2 separate regions of the Homo sapiens genome follow, and region 1 is linked to region 2. Evidence: fine-mapped expression QTL. A gene starts in region 2. The other region holds a variant in brackets. All regions are shown on one strand. Distances are from middle to middle.

Evidence for each region.
Region 1: its variant is fine-mapped to the expression of CYFIP2 in whole blood (INTERVAL, PIP 0.94).

The regions. Positions count from the first base shown.
Region 1 is chr5:157,305,549-157,310,919 of GRCh38, reverse strand. CYFIP2 (cytoplasmic FMR1 interacting protein 2) reads right to left here. Exons shown (of 31, transcript NM_001037333.3): 9 at 3,055-3,159; 10 at 1,086-1,177. Among named protein-coding and RNA genes, the nearest start is that of FNDC9, 37 kb to the left of the region's middle. The variant AG/G (reference allele first, on the strand shown) is at 2,756.
Region 2 is chr5:157,263,268-157,268,638 of GRCh38, reverse strand. It overlaps CYFIP2 (cytoplasmic FMR1 interacting protein 2), which reads right to left and starts at 2,516. Exons shown (of 31, transcript NM_001037333.3): 1 at 2,444-2,516. RefSeq lists an enhancer at 1,300-1,409 and a silencer at 2,090-2,609.

The DNA.
Region 1 (5,371 bases), 42 kb before region 2:
CTACCCTCAGGTGCTGGTGACCCAGCAGACAGATGAAGCATGAGCACCAGACAAGGCAGAAGAAAGATTCTGGGGAGAATTTACTATTTCAAAAGAAGCCCTGATATGGTTCTCACAAGAATGGTAGAACAGTGACAGCCTTCCTCAGGCCTCCCTTCAATATCACTCAAAGAGTTACCTGTGGAGAGGGGAGCACACGGCCCCTCACACCCAACCCCAGTCACTTCCCTAGCCTCCGCTCCCAGCCAGCTTCAGCTGGTCGAGAAGTCAGGCAGGGAAAAGTGAGGAATGAGTTCAGCATTCTCCATTCCCTGCTTTTCCTGCAAAACCCCGTCACGCGCTAGCAGCCAGAGGGTGATGAAGCGACTACATGAGCTTTCCTTTGGACACTTGTTCGCAGAGGCTCCAGGCGGATGCAGTTCAAGGACACTCCATTCATATCTTCTTAAGATGCCAACACACTCGCCCTTGACTAAAGGACGGCTGGTTCCCCTCTGTGTGGAGAGGCCATAACTTCGGGCGAGAAGCACACAGAAGGAACCTCCCTAACAGCCTCAGAGACCAAAAGAGCAGCAGAGGTTGGAGCCCCCCAACTTCAGTGAAGCACTGACACCCCAGGCCTTTGCATAGATGACCCAGAATTGTGGTTTATAAAGCGGCCGAAGGTGAGGCTGCCCACCCAATTCACGTCGACTGCACGATGGACTTAGCGCACGGTCACCTAACCTGAGAGGATCAGTGTGAGGAGGAACAACGCCACCTCTCCTCACTGGACCACTGAGGGCTGGCCACTCTTCAGGGAACGAGGTGGACTCCTGCTGTCCTGCTGAGAGGACATGCGAGTCACTGCTGGGCTGGACAAGGGGCGTGGCTGTGCTCTGAGCCCTTTTGAAGCTGGCAGCAGAGGGCGGATACAAAAGGGCTCAGAGCACCCTCGCGGCTCCCCTCCGGCCGGCACCTGTGTTCTGATGGAATCCACCTGCCCAGGGATCTGGGGAGGGAGGAGGGGCTGAAGTGGCCCCTCGGCTCTCTGCCCGGGCTGGGCATCCTTGCGGGAGCCGAGAGACATTACGGCAGGCACTCACTTGGACTTGTTCTCTTCATAGTGAGCACTGGTCTTAATGTATCTGGCCAGCTCTATCTGCATGTCGCCGAAAAGGGGCACCACCTGCAGCTGCTGCAAAGGAAGCAAACACAGCTCGTGAGATGCTGAGGAGGGGTTGGGGTGGCTGCCTTCGCTGCCACCCCACTGTGGGAGGCAGGCCTCTGTGTGTGCCTGGGGGCCGACCCCTAGTTTCTGCTTCCGATGACGCTACCATGTGACTCTGAAGCCAAACGGAGCCCTAGCCAGCGTATAGGTCCTCCCCTGCCTCCAACCAACTCTATGTTCTAGGCAACGGAGCCCAGAGAGGCAAAGTGACTTGTCCAAGGTCACTTAGCCAACAGCATGTGTGAAGGCCAAGGACTGGATGGATGGCTGCCCAGTGCAGGGTCCTTTCCACTCGAATCTTCCCTGGCTTAAAGCATCCTTGCTGTTATGATTTCTAGGCTAGAAGCAGGTGTCTGAGCGCTGTTGGTCTTCCTGAGAAAGTCTGTACTTTCAAAGCAATTAAAACCGTAATAATACCTAACACCAGAGGGCAAACAACTCCCGACCAAAAACCAGGGCAAATGGCGGGGAGGCTGGTATTTATTATGTGCTTCTCATGCACTAGGTACTATGCCAAGCACTTTAAAAACAGTATCTCAAGCCACACAATAGCCCTGTGAAGTCTGCACTATTATCATTCCCATTTCAGAGAAGAAGAACTGAAGCTTAAACAGCTTAAGTGATTTTTCATAAAGTCAGACCAGCTAGAAGTCAAGAAGCCAGGATTATACAACCCAGGGCTCTGAGTCATCTATGTAACCCCACTGAATCCTCCAGGGAACGCTACAGAGCCGATACCCTTGGTATTCATATTTTTCAGACTTGGAACTCAGTTTCAGTGATTTAGTGACTTTCCCAACGTCATCCAGCTATTAAGTGGCAGAGCCAGACTTACACCCAGGCCTGCCAAGGGAGAGGTTGTATTTCTCTTCTACCCTCATCTCATTCATGCTGACTTAGGGAAGATTTTGCAAGGGTCTCCCAAAATGAGCCCTATTTTCATCTGGGGCAACTCTAGAGAAAAGTAAAAGTTCCACCCTTGAAAACAAGCAAAGCCAAGGCACAGGATTCCTCTTAGTGACTTATGTTCCTTTTCCTTAACCTTGAAGAGTCAGTGGGACTCAGGCTCGATCTAATGCCCTCCATGTCACACCACTGAGTTCTGCTGTGAATATTAATCTGGGCTTTCCCATGACTGACCTCTCAGGCTTGCTCCATGTCGGCAGTGCCCAATGCTAGAATAAACTGAGAACATGGGAAGTTAATTCCAAAGTGTAAGATTCCTTTGCAAAATTCTAAGAGGCTTAGTTTAACTGCAAATTTTTAAAGATCTGTGGCCAAAAGATCAACTCTCAGAGGCACTGAAACACAGTGAGTATATGATGAACGTTGCTGAGGCATTCTATCCAGAGGTAAGGGCAAGCTGAGGTGGTCCCTGGTGTACCAGGTGAGAGGCTGTGATTTTGCAAATGTGAACCAATTTAAAATCCAGTCTTTAATCATTCTACTTCTGCGAGCTCTGATTTATACTGGAAATTAGAGCAGGTGCTGTCTTCTGGGATGTACCTCTTTAAGTGACAAGGGACTTCAGGAAAAAAAAAAAAA[AG/G]CAGCATTCAGAAAAGAATCACAGGGCCTCCTCCTAGCCAAATCCCAGCTGAATCCTGCAACTTGGAACGATGTGTGGCTTTCATGCAGCAGCCTTCTAGGGCATAAATGCCTCCATCAATGGCAGCTGGAGGCCCTGCCATTCTATTCTCCTCCTCTTCCTACTCTTGGGATCTTTGGAGCTACAGCTCAATTAAAAAAACCTGACAGTTTTCTGGCTCATTTCATCCCTTTCCCCCAAAGACATCTTGGCGCTGGTAACCTCAGCCCTCTGCCCAGCCCCAGCCCCAGTTGCTGACCTTAAAGAATTTATCAATTTTGCTAAGATTAATTCTCTTCTTGGCATCCAGTTTGTAAATGTTACTGACATTTCCATCCATTAGGTAGAGGCCAAAGCCCATCACCTAGAATGAGAAGAGGGCAGAGCATAGAAACTAATCACATCTGCTGGAAAAGTTTAAAAACAAAAAGGTAGGTCTGTATATGTGTCACACACACACACACACATACACACACACACACACACACCCTGTAGAGACACACATTATATTATGAAAATCTATGCATCTTCAAATAAAGGCAGGAAATGTAAGTCTAATTTCAACCAGAAATTTAGTGTATTACTACAGCAGCTACTTCTTCAGCCCTTACTATGGGCCAGAGTCTGTGCTCAGAGCTTTAATAAGCATGATTTTCTCTTGAGTCAAGTTCTCTGCAATAACCTTATTCTATAGATGAGGAATCAGAGACACAGGGAGGTTAGACAGCTCGCCAAGGCCACACAGCGAAGCAGCAGAGACAGGAGCTGAACAGGATCTGTTGACAATATTTCCGCATTTAGATCTTTCTGAGAGAAAGGGCTACTCCTAGCTCCTTGCTGTATCCCAGGGTGGGGCACAATACAGGCATCTGATGAATACTTGAACAGTTAGTGAATGTGAAAGTATCCACCTCTTTCTCCACAGAAAGGACAATGTAAATGTTTCCAAGGAGCCGCTGGTGACTTTAATTTTTTAAAAAAAATCTCTTCCTGAATTTGCCCTCTGAGTAGGTTGACATTCTTGATTCCAACCCTTCTAATAGTCTCCTGAATGCTGGCTTGTTTTGCTCCTTTTAACATGTATGCAGAAGGGGGCCTGAGCAGCTGTGTGACCATGAGAAAGTCACTTCTCTCCATTCCTCTATTTCTCATCTGACACGAACAGGGTGGAGCAGGGTACTGCTAAGGTTGCTTCCTCTGTGGGTGCATTTCCGGTTTTTTTTTTTTTTTTAAGATGGCCTCACTCTGTTCCCTACCCCACCCCACCCGGGCTGGAGTGCAGTGGTATGATCACAGCTCACTGCAGCCTCAACCTCCTGGGCTCAAGCGATTCTCTCACCTCAGCCTCCCAAGAAGCTGTGACTACAGGTGCACGCCACCACCCCCGGCTAATTTTTGTATTTGTCTGTCAAGATGGTGTTCCACTGTGTTGCCCAGGCTGGTCTCAAACTCTTGGGCTCAAGTGATCCCCCTGCCTTGGCCTCCCAAAGCGCTAGGATTACAGGTGTGAGCCACTCTGTGGGTATATTTTGTTCTGCAGAATGAACTTCATCGTTTTCTGCATAAGAGCAGACAGTGCTCCACGGTGGCATCTGAGTTCACTAACACAAACTAACCATGTGGCAAAACCATGTGAAGGCCAGATTGAAGAGGGTGGGGAACAGAGAGGGAAGAAGGCAGGGAAGTCCGGGTATGGGGGGCTGGAGAATTTGAAGGCCGCATTAAGACTACTTGGTGGGCTGGTAGGTAGTGACTTAGCTTGTGGAAAGTTACAGCAATCACCCAGGCAAAGCACCAGTGGTGAGAGGGATATGTGAACTGTGAGTGGCTTCTCCGGATTTCTGATGTTGGGACGAAGCCAGAGTGAACAAGTCTCAAAGCCACTCAGCCCTGCAAACTTAACTGAGGTGCTAAGACATGTAAAACAGGAGCACCAACACAGGGCTGGGATTCTCAGAATAGCAGGAGAGACACTGAAGGAGAAGAAAGGAAAAACCACCAGAACATTGAGAGGTGAGGATCTGGGACAGAATCAAAAGGGGCTCTGCAGCGTGTATAAAGAATGGGAGAAGGCTGTTCATGTCAGTGCTACAGCTGTGGGGCATAAGTTAGAGACAACCTAAGCTAACAATGGAATAATGGCTAAGGAAGGCTTATGGAAATCACATTATTTCACAGCAGCATAACATAGCCAAATAAATTTAGTCACATGAGATAAAATGGATACATGGTCATGCAGATTGCAAATTTTGAAAATATATAAGCATAGAAAAAAAACTTAGAAGGACGTACATAAAAATGCTGAAAGTAGGCCAGGCGCAGTGCCTCATGCACGTAATCCCAGCACTTTTGGAGGCCGAGGCGGGCAGATTGCTTGAGCCCAGGAGTTCAAGACCAGCCTGGTCAACATAGGAAGACCTTGACTCTACAAAAAATTTTTTAAAAAAATAGCTGAGTGTGGTGGCATGTGCCTGTAGTCCCAGCTACTCAGGAAGCTGAGGTGGGAGGATCGCTTGAGCCTGGGAGTTAGAGGCTGCAGTGAACCATGATTGTGCCACTGCACTCCAGCCTGGGAG
Region 2 (5,371 bases):
GGACCCCTGGGGCCAACAGTGGTCCAAAGAAGCTGCGTTGAGAGTGTAGTCCAATCTTTAAACGTAGGGACTGGGACCCGTACTGTTTTCCAGGAGCGCTTTTCCCGTTAATTAGCTTGTAGCCGATTCATCATCTCATTCAGCTTTCTGGTTGATGACAGCAGCAGAGGCCACTGAACATCAGAGAGGGCATGATTTATCAGAGGGGTCATGTAGTGTTCTACCAGGGCCTTTTACCGGTTTTTGAATTCATGTCTACTTCCTTCTCTGGGCCAGCATCTGATTTGAGTAAAACTCTCCAACCCCACTGGGTTGTACATCCGACTCTTGGCCTAATGCCTAAAGCAAGTTTTTCCTTTTTCATTTTCCAGCAGGGACTGAACAAGGCAGCCTTGGGTGCCTACAGAACCGGTCAGAACTGGCCAGGAAATATAATAAAGAAGCTTAGTGAGCAGAGAGCTAATGCCCCCAGCCAGAGGCTCAGTGCGCACAACTAGCTAGAGGCACTGACTTTGTAAGCAACAACACTATCTTCTTGAGGTCTAATAATTGCCTTGGCAAAGGGCAGCCAATGCCAACGAGGAACCCTGTGTACACAAGTTTCTCATCCCGAAAGTGGACACTGGGTGCTCAAAAAATGCCTTCTGGTGACAGTAACACCTGACCAGTCAAACAAACATGCACGCATGCACATGCATGCATACACACTCTTACAGCATTCCTGCCTGCAGGGCCAAAGCTGCCCTTGCCAAATACAGAGCTGACAGCTGCTAGATATTGTCATTTCAGGGACCCGTTCCCAAAAGAACTACCCAGCTCCCCACCTCCACTTCCAGCCCACTGTTTGAAATTCTACCATTAGTGATAGCAAATATTTCTACAGTGTTTCCCATTAAAGCTTTGTTTCCCATTAAAATGCCTCCATCCTCTGTTTCTTTTCCGGTCAAATGACTTGTAAAGCACCTGCTCTGCATCAAATGGGAACTTCTTTTGTATTTAGCTCTTCAAGATAAACACAATCATTGGCTCCTTTCTTGAAAACCATTTCTGACACTGGAGACTGGGGGAAGGGCAGGGCACTGTATGGAAGTGGAGGTGGGAGGCCACCAGGAGGGCCACAGAGAGAGGGTCTAATGGTGGAGAAAGCAACCATCAAGGCCTTCACAGGCCTGCCCAAAGATATGGACCTGATTTTTGCCCTCTAAGATCTCAGGGACCCAGGTTGCTGGCACAGCCTGTATCCAAGAGTAAGGTGAGACCCACTGCCCTAACTGGGACACAGACAGGAGGCAGGAAATGGGAACACAGGAACCGACAGTCTCCTGATTTGCCCCTCCTGCCAGCAGGCCTGCCTCCGTCTCCCTGCCCATGCTGAGGGCACAGGCACCCAGGAACTAGCAGAAAAAGATCCTTGTCCCATTCTTGGCCTAGCTGGAAGGACAGCTGATGGCTCATCAGCCCTGGTGAGTGTTTCCACTGTGCTGGGGAAAGTAGGCAAGCAAAGGTCAAAATCAGATTCCCTGTGCTGGGGAGGCACCTGGGCTGTCAGTGTCCTTTCCAGCCGGGTTCTGGATATAGAGGGCCATACTTATGTGGAACATGCTACCTGCCCCCATCCCCAAGCAGAGAGCACCTCCTCCTCTTCTTTTGCACATAGGTGGGCTGTTCTTTGGGGTGAGGGGTAGGGCTGACCTGAAAAGTAGACGCCACAACAGACAGGCAAGCATCTTCCTGGTTCTTCAGAGCTCAAGAAAAAAACCACCTTTTCCCCCAGGAGTCAGCCCACTCATCCCCTTCCCCCACTTCCACCGTGCCCGCAGCCAGCTTGGTGAGCGATGCTAGTGTAGGCCAGAAAGCTTCCAAGCGGGTCAGACCTGCTCCTCTCTCATCAAAGCCCTCCGCCCCCAAACATCGACGCTGCGCCCCTCGCCCCACCCATCACACGTTCTGTGTGCCCGAGGCGGCTGCCAGGCGGGCCCAGGCGGCTCTCGCTGGCCCTGGGGGAGGTGACGGTGGTCACGGCGGCAGAGGCAGGGGCCAGCGCTCTGCAGTACCTGGACTCGAGGATGTCGCCGCTGCCGGGCTCGCGGCCGCTGCAGGTGTCTCCGGTCCCTGAGATTAGCACCGCCTCCTCCCGGGCTGGCGGCTCCGGCCCAGGCCGCGCACCTGCTGCTGCGGCTCCCCCGCCGCCGCGCCGGAGCTCCGCGATGTGCCCGCGCCTCCCGGGCAGAGGGTCCGTGCCGCGGGACGCACGGTGGGTCCGAGGGGGAAAGGGGCCGCGTGGGGCCTGAGGCCGGGCCTCGGGCTAGCCCGGGCACAGCGCCGAGCGCCCCCCGCGGGCCGGGAGAGGGGGCGGCCCTTCGCGCATCCTCACGGCCTCATCCCCGTCCCCGGCGGCATCCTAGTCCCCGTGCCCGGCCCGAGGCCTGCGAGGGCCGCTTACCTGGCTCTGCGGCGGGTCCAGGGGAGGGGCCTGAGGCTACCGCAGGGCCCCGCGCCGGGGCGCAGGATGCTCTGCCCCGCTCCGCTGCGCCGCGCTCGGCCCCGCCCCGGCCCCGCTGCTCCGCCCGCCGCGGCTCCGCCCCCACCCAGCGCCCGCCCCTTCGCCGCAGCGGCTGTCACACAAAGGGCAGGAAATGGCTGCGGCGAGGGTCTCTCCACGCTCTCCGCTGTACCGCCGGCGCACCCAGGACCTGCCTCTCGGTTTCGGAGGACCGCTCAGCCCCCAGGCTTCCTGCCCTGGGGGCGGGAAAGGGAGGGAAGGCTTCTTCCACGGCCTCCATCACCGGGAACCACACCTGCAGCAACCCGAGGACGAGAGCTTCGGCCGCGTTCGGATCTTATTGGCCCCACATGATTTCCAAGTGCTCTTTTATCAACCCAGTCTTTATTGATTACCTATCCTGTTCCAAGTACCGTGCCAGGACTTGGGTGTGCACTGGTGTACAAAAGACAGGGTCCTGCCCCCTTGGAGTTTTATCACCTGCCAGGAGAAACAGGTGTAAATTAACCTAGCAAACGTCCAGTTACAGCCCAAAGTGCTCTGAGGAGAAGGAGCAGGGTGAAGTGACAGAAGATGCAACTGGGGCTAGGGGAAGGGGCCTTCCACCAATTGAGCTTGGTCGCTGATAGGGCTCCTTCGCTTAAGAATAAGTTCTTCCGCTCCCTTCCAGTTCCCTGGAGAAGAGTCCCTGAAGCTGCCACCTCTTTTACAGGGGCCTGCCTCAACTTCATTCTGGAAGAATTGCCTAACGGACAAATAGGTGGCAGGAAGCACTGAGAGGACAGGTACCTTTCTCTTCAAGGCTTATCTGCCGTGTCGGGCTCTTTAAAGAAGCAATTATCTGCCCAGCGGTGGCTCACACCTGTAATACCAAAACTTTGGGAGGCCGAGGAGAGAGGATTGCTTGAGCTCAGGAATTGGAGACCATCCTGGGCAACTCAACGAAACTTCATCTCTACTAAAAATTAAAAAAAAAAAAAAATAGATGGGTGTGGTGGCATCCACCTTTTGTCCCAGCTACTCAGGAGGCTGAGGTGGGAGGATTGCTTGAGCCTGGGAGATTGAGGCTACAGTGAGCTATGATCCTGCCGCCGCACTCCAGACTGGGTGACAGAGTGAGACTCTGTCTCAAAAAAAAAAAAAAAAGAATGAAAGAGAGAGACGGGGGGAGAGAGAGAGAGAGAAAGGAAGAAAGAAAAAGAAAGAGAGAGAAAGAAGAGAAGGAAAGAAAGAAGAGAAAGAAAGAGAGAAAAGAAAAAGAGAAAGAAACAATTCTCATTGAAATCCAGCCTGGTAGGCCTTCAGACCAGGCTGAAGTCAGGCTGCACCAAATTCTAACCTTGAGACACCTGAGCAGGTCACTTCACCACTCTGCTCCACAGAGGTCACCGTATCTGCAACACAGGGAATAACAGTTGCCCTTTATACCTTACAGGGTAAATAATTTGAAAACATTTGAGACATTGTGGAGTGTATGTAGATATAAGGAGTGGTTTCCTAAGGCCCACAAATTTATACTTAATCACTCAGCTGTTCCTAATAAGGGCAATTTGTGGAGGAGCCCCGTTATTCAAGCTCCAGCAAAGGACTTGTGGAAGCCTTTGCTTTCCTTTACTGATCTCACCTTATTTCCCACGTGCTCAGAATCCATAATTCCTTGTGGTTTGATCTTAAATCGCTAATTCCAATTCAAATTGCTATTTCGGAAAAAAATGACTTATATATATATATATATACACACACATACATTTCTTCCCTGGTTCAGTGTGAAAAGCTGTGGGGGTGTTTGTGGAGGATGGGTTTAAAAACAGAACTGAGGTTTCCTTTTTAAAAAATGTTTCATTTTCCACCGTGATCCTTGGGATTTCAAGTTCAGTGATTACAAATACTTAACAATGAGAATCCCAATAAATCAGATTTTCATTCTAAGGGGCATATTATTGCAGATGGTATAGTTTTTTGGAAGACGTATTTCTCCCTGTTGTTCCTTCCCTGTCTTTTCACCTTCAGGAACAAGTTGCCTAAAAACAGAAAAGACTATTACATATATATTTGGTTAGATCTTAGGCAAAAATAACTCCGACCTCTGAGTTCTATTTGTGTATAAAGGAGAGCAGTATGGTCTTTTGAAGCCACTGTGTTGGAAATCCAGAGGCTTGCCTTTTGGTTCTAGTTTTGCAACTAACAGAAGAATGATCTTAGGCAAGGAGCCTCACCCCTGTTTCCTCACCTGTTAAGTGAAGTAAGTTGGATGCTCTCCAACTTCCCTCTGAATGTGGAAAATTACATGAGTTAAAGGGCACGTCCCTCCCAGGCTTAAGGCACTTCCCTAGCTCCCCACTGCCCCCCGATGAAGCCCAAACTCTCCAGTGGCCGGAGAGGGTCTTTAAGAGCTGGCAGCTATCTCTCCATGTGAACAAGCTTGCTGTGCTTCAGCTAAAAGGAACAGCTTTTAGTTCCTCAAACTTGCTGTGTTCTCTGTTGTGCTCGACATTCGTACATGCAAGGCTTCTTCAATGGCAGTTTCTGTCCCCCCATTCCCTCCCTCCACATTCCACACTTTTTCCCAGTTTACCTGATGAAGTTCTGTTCATCTTCCTGGTATTCCTCTAGATGTCGCTTCCTCCAAGATTCCTACATGTCTGGGTTAGCTTGAGATTAGTTGTCTATGTGTCCTTAGCTGCCTGGGCTCCCTCTATCACCCCACGTATTAGTCTGCATTATAATTGTCAACACACTTCCCTGTATTCCACCATGAGACCATAAAATCTAAGGGAGCAGGGATATGTCTGTCTTGCTTTCCCATTGCATCCTTGGAGCCTGGTACTTAACAGGAGTTCAGTAAAAATGGATGGAATGAACACCCAT